Linked DNA regions of Homo sapiens: region 2 is linked to region 1. A link means that fine-mapping ties the variant in region 1 to the expression of a gene that starts in the linked region. Tissue or cell type: macrophages. Region 1 holds a variant in brackets; the other region holds the start of a gene. All regions are shown on one strand. Distances are from middle to middle.

Evidence for each region. PIP is the estimated chance that this variant, and not a neighbour inherited with it, causes the effect.
Region 2: NOTCH3 starts here. The variant in region 1 is the best candidate, but not a certain one, in a credible set for the expression of NOTCH3 in macrophages (Nedelec 2016, PIP 0.67).

The regions. Positions count from the first base shown.
Region 1 is chr19:15,659,826-15,662,508 of GRCh38, reverse strand. It overlaps CYP4F3 (cytochrome P450 family 4 subfamily F member 3), which reads right to left. Exons shown (of 13, transcript NM_000896.3): 13 at 1-2,683. Among named protein-coding and RNA genes, the nearest start is that of CYP4F12, 12 kb to the left of the region's middle. The variant C/T (reference allele first, on the strand shown) is at 1,153.
Region 2 is chr19:15,199,380-15,202,062 of GRCh38, reverse strand. NOTCH3 (notch receptor 3) reads left to right here and starts at 1,068. Exons shown (of 33, transcript NM_000435.3): 1 at 1,068-1,275. The coding sequence starts at 1,158. RefSeq lists enhancers at 184-683, 684-1,185 and a silencer at 1,772-1,998.

The sequences.
Region 1 (2,683 bases):
TATTGGGGAAAAAATGTAGTTGAAGGATTCCCATTACTCCTTTAAAGATATACTATAATGCAACAGTGACTAGGGCAGTGTGGTATTGGTCCAACATGGAATAGAATAGAAAATCCAGAAATATATCCACCCAAATTTCAACAATTGAGTTTTCTACAAACCTGCAAGGCAAGTTAAAGCAAAAAGGATTTTCTTTTCTTTTCTTTCTTTCTTTCCTTTTTTTTTTTTTTTTTTTTGAGAGAGAGAATCTAGCTCTTTCACCCAGGCTGGAGTGCAGTGGCACAATCTCGGCTCACTGAAACCTCTGACTCCTGGGTTCAAGCGATTCTCCTGCCTCAGCCATCCAAGCAGCTGTGAATACAGGCACACACCACCACGCCTGGCTAATTTTTCTATTTTTAATAGAGACGTGGTTTCACCATATTGGCCAGGCTGGTCTCAAACTCCTGACCTCATGATCTGCCCACCTTGACCTCCTAAAGTGCTGGGATTACAGGTGTGAGCTACCGTGCCCTGCCAAGGATATTCTTTTCAAAAAAATTGTGTGAAACAATTGGATATCCATATACAAGAAAACAGTCAAACCACAGTTCACACCCCATACAAAATTTAACTAAATGGAGATTATGGAATTACATGTAAACTCTGAAACTATAAAACTTTTAAAAGAAAATGTAGGAGAAAATCTCCATGACCTCCAGTTAAGCAAAGAGTTCCTATATATGGCAGTATAAACATAATTCACCAAAAATAAAACTGAGAAGTCTTACTTCATAAAAATTTAAAACGTTTGCTCTATGAAAGAAAGAAACTTCAGAGACTAGGAAGAAGACTTGCAAATCACACGACTGACAAAGGACTTGTACATAGAACTCTCAAAATCCAACAATAAGAAGGCAAACAACCGAAGGAAAATTTAATGAGCAGATGATTGAACAGACACTTCACCAAAGAAAATATAGGAGTGTCAAATAGGCACAGGAAGGCACGAGTGGTTCAACACCCTTAGTCACTGGAAAATGCGAATTAAAATCTCAGGGATATGCCACAGCATACCCATAAGGAAGGCTGAAACAAAAACTGACACTACGAAGGACTGCTAATTATTTGGAGGACCTAGAATTCTCATACGTTACTTATGGAAATTAAACA[C/T]GATGCAGATGCTTTGGAAACAGTTTGGCAGTGTTTTGTTTTGTTTTGTTTTGTTTTTGTTTTGTTTTGTTTTGTTTTGTTTTGTTTTTGAGACCGAGTCTCGCTATGTCCCCCTCCCCCAGGCTGGAGCGTAGTGGCACCACCTCAGCTCACTGCAACCTCCGCCTGTGGGTTTCAAGTGATTCTCCCGCATCAGCCTCCCGAGTAGCTGGGATTACAGGCCCGCACCACCATGACCAGCTAACTTTTGTATTTTAGTAGAGAGGGGAGCCTAAGTTCTCATTGCTGTTAGAATGAGATGGCTGGATCATTATTCTAAGTGTACGTATAACATGATAACAAACTATCAAACTGGACCGGGCCTGTAATCCCAGCACTTTGGGAGGCCGAGGCGGGTGGATCACCTGAGGTTAGGAGTTCAACACCAGCCAGTGCAACATGGCGAAACCCCGCCTCTATTAAAAATACAACAATTAGCTGGATGTGGTGGTGGGTGCCTGTAATCCCAGCTACTTGGGAGGCTGAGACAGGACAATCACTTGAACGCAGGAGGCGGAGGTTGCAGTGAACTGAGATCATGCCACTGCACTCCAGCCTGGGCAACAGAGCGAGACTCCATCTCAAAAAAAAAAAAAAATTAGGCACCCCTGTCAAAGTCTTGTCTACTCACTCTGGAGTGGTCCCCAGGTGATCTGATGTGCCTAGGGCAGAGACTTACTTTGAAAATTACTTCTGTGGTAGGAAAAGTCATGGCCTCTGATGCCAAACGAACCAGATTTATCCCCACTCTTCCACTCAGAGTGACCTTGAGCAAGAGAGTTAACGTCCAGTCCATAAAATTGGTGTGAGGATGAAAACCACTTTTACCTGGGAAAGCTAAAATGTCACCTTCTCCCTTCTCAGTGGTCTACTTCTTAATAGGACAAAAACAGTCAGTGTCTGTGGAGTTTGCAGGGCATGCCTGTTCTAGAAAAGTGTCTAACCACACCTGTATCTTACAGGAATATCTGTGCATCTATTGCTATAAAAATAAAATCTCTACTCCAAAAGTCATTTGATGAAGAATAACTCAATTTGTAACTGATAATGATACCTCAAGCCATTAAAGTGCCAGAAAAGAAATCTTACAAACTGAAACAAAACCTTTTAAATTATTTTCTAAAATTACATATTTTTAAAAATTTAAGACTGATTTGAATACTTAACATGCACATTTTGAAGAACACAAAATAATGTTTCCTAAGATGATTTAATATCATGGAAAGATGCTCACAACATATTCTTTTGTGAAGAATCCAGATGGAAAAAGTATATATGAGCTGTAATAGCATGTTTAGGTAGAATTCACATAAAAATCACTATTTCAACCATTCTAAAGTGTCCAATTCAATAGCATTTAGTGCACTCACAGTGTCGTGCTACCTTCATCACTATCTAGGTCCGGAACATTTTCACCATCCCAGGAGGAAACCCCATCCTGATTAGCAGTCGCTCCTCAGTCCCACCTCCCCACAGCTGCTGAAAGCCACCA
Region 2 (2,683 bases), 460 kb after region 1:
TGAGCCAAGATAGGGACACTGCACTCCAGCCTGGGTGACAGAGCGACACGCTGTCTCAAAAAAAAAAAAAAAAAGAAAAGAGAATTAATCAAATTGAGCCAGATAGGCTGAGGCCCAAAGCTGTGTGGGGTATGGGGGTGGGACTAGGGGGCTGGGGTGACCCTTTGAGAGTCACAGAGGAAGTGGGTTGCTTTCTGGGAGGGCTGAGAGCAAGAAGAGTTTGTGTGTGCATGTGTGAACACACACACATGCATGTGACTCCTAGTACGTGTCTGAGGTCTGAGGCTGCAAATGTAGTCCTAGGCTCCTGGCCTGGCTGAGTGAGTTTTAGCGGTTTTTTGTTTGTTTGTTTTGTTTGAGACAGGGTCTTACTCTGTTGCCCAGGCTGGAGCGCAGTGGTACGATTTCGGCTAAGTGCAACCTCAGCCTCCTGGGTTGAAGCGATTTTCCTGCTTCAGCCTCTCGAATAGCTGGGACTACAGGCGTGCGCCACCACGCTCAGCTAATTTTTGTATTTTCAGTAGAGTCCGGGTTTCACCATGTTGGCCAGGCTGGTCTCCAACTCTTGACCTCAAGTGATCCATCCACCTCTGCCTCTCAAAGTGCTGGGATTACAGGCCGGAGCCACCGCGCCCGGTCCGACTTTTAGGTTTGTGAATGTTTTAGATCAGAGTCCTGGGGAAGCTTGGTGCATGGGCTTGCATTTGTGCGTCCGTGGCTGTGGGTCCATGAGCCTCTCAGGACGTGACTGGCCTCAGTTTCCAGAGTTTCTGGGAGGCTGTGTTTTTTGTCCCGGCTCCAGAGGTGTCCGGCTCTGGGTGTGTACTGGGGGATGGGGATGGGGTGCGTGGGCGTTCACGAGGTTGGGTGTGCCCGCCACTCCGGGTTCTGCCCGCGTCTCACTGCATGCTCGGCCTGGGTTTCCGAGGGTCCGCGCGTCCCAGGCTGTGCGGGTGGAGGGTGGGCAGGGACCCCGGGAGGCCGGGCGGGGGGCGGGGGCGCGCTGGGCCGGCCCCGGGGCGGGGCGAGCCTTCGAGGGCTGGGGGCGGGGCGGCCCGGCCGCCTCACTTCGGCGAAGTTGGCGGCGCGGAGGCTGGCCCGGGACGCGCCCGGAGCCCAGGGAAGGAGGGAGGAGGGGAGGGTCGCGGCCGGCCGCCATGGGGCCGGGGGCCCGTGGCCGCCGCCGCCGCCGTCGCCCGATGTCGCCGCCACCGCCACCGCCACCCGTGCGGGCGCTGCCCCTGCTGCTGCTGCTAGCGGGGCCGGGGGCTGCAGGTGAGGGGCCGGGACCTGGCGGATGGGACGAGGGCGGCAGAGGGGGAGTGCAAGAACCCCCAAGGCCGGGGCTGGCGGGGGTTCATGGGAGGCAGGAACCAGGGTCGGGGAAGGGGCGCAGGAGCCCCGGGCTTCATGCCAGTCCTGGAGGACCCAGAGATTCAGAATGGGGAGGACCCCAGAGGCCCAAGGAACAGGGACCCTTGAGCGATTAGAGCTGAAGATGAAGGGACCCAGGAGTCCGAGACTGGGAGCTCGAGGTGCGGGGATCAGGGACTCGAGGTGGGGGGGTGCGTACAGAGTTCGGGACTCGTCCCCATCCAACTCACGCCTGGAGTCCTGGGTAGGTTATGATTGGGGGCCCAGGTACTTCTAGGCCGGGGACCTCTCGCACAAAAGCCCCCCCACCCCGCCCCCGACACCCCGGGCGGGCTGGGCCAGGCGGGGGGTGGGGAGGGGGCGCGAAGTTCTGGGAGCTCTGAACTCGGAGAAAACTTCCCAGGCCGGCGCGCAGCAAGACCCGGAGCCGGATTCCGAGCCGGAGCCTCGGCGGCGCGCGCGCCCCCTCCCCCGCCCGCAGCCCGCCTCTCTCCTCTGGCCGCGGGGACCCGGAGGCCCTGGGACCCCGCCCCTGCGCGGGGAGGGGAAGGGGCGAGGGCCCACGTGCTCCCCTTCGGCTCCAGCGCCCCCTCCCCGCGGCCAGAGCCCCTCCCCAGCCGGCCAGGGGCCCCCGCCCCTCCTCCTCTCCTCCCTCCCCTCCCCCGCTCGGGACAATGGCCGCGCCGTCTAGACACCCCCTCCCTCCGGCCGGCCTCGCGCTTTCTTTGCCAGACAAAGCGGGACCCGCGGCTGGGCCGGGGAGGGGGCTGCGGGGGCACCCCCCTCACCGCTACGGGAGGCCTGGTGGGCGGGGGAGGGGCGCGGGCCAAGGCCCCTGGCCAGGGGTCCCAGACGCCAGTGTGGGGCTTGGCGCTGGGCGGGGTGGGGGTTTCGGGAGTGAACGGCCTCCCCAGCCCAGCCCCGGGGCCCGGACGGGGCAGGACCAGGCAGGAGCCGCCGCCTCCGCCGGACCAGCGGCGCACACACATGGCCTGTGACACACTCGCTGGCACACATAGCTCTAGGTCACGTAACAGAGATGCAAACCTGCACACACACAGCACACTCGCAGACTTGCACACCTGGCTCAGGAAAGACACACCCAGCTGCACGCACACAGCTCACACATTGACATACATACACACACAAATATGATCACACAGGTGTGGCACACACGCTGCCTGCACACACTCAGACAGCACATAGATGAAGACTCAAGGACATGCTTACACCCAGCTCACACATGCAGATGGACAGACACAGCCAACCCATACACAGACACAGCGGTGCACACACAGGTCACACCAAC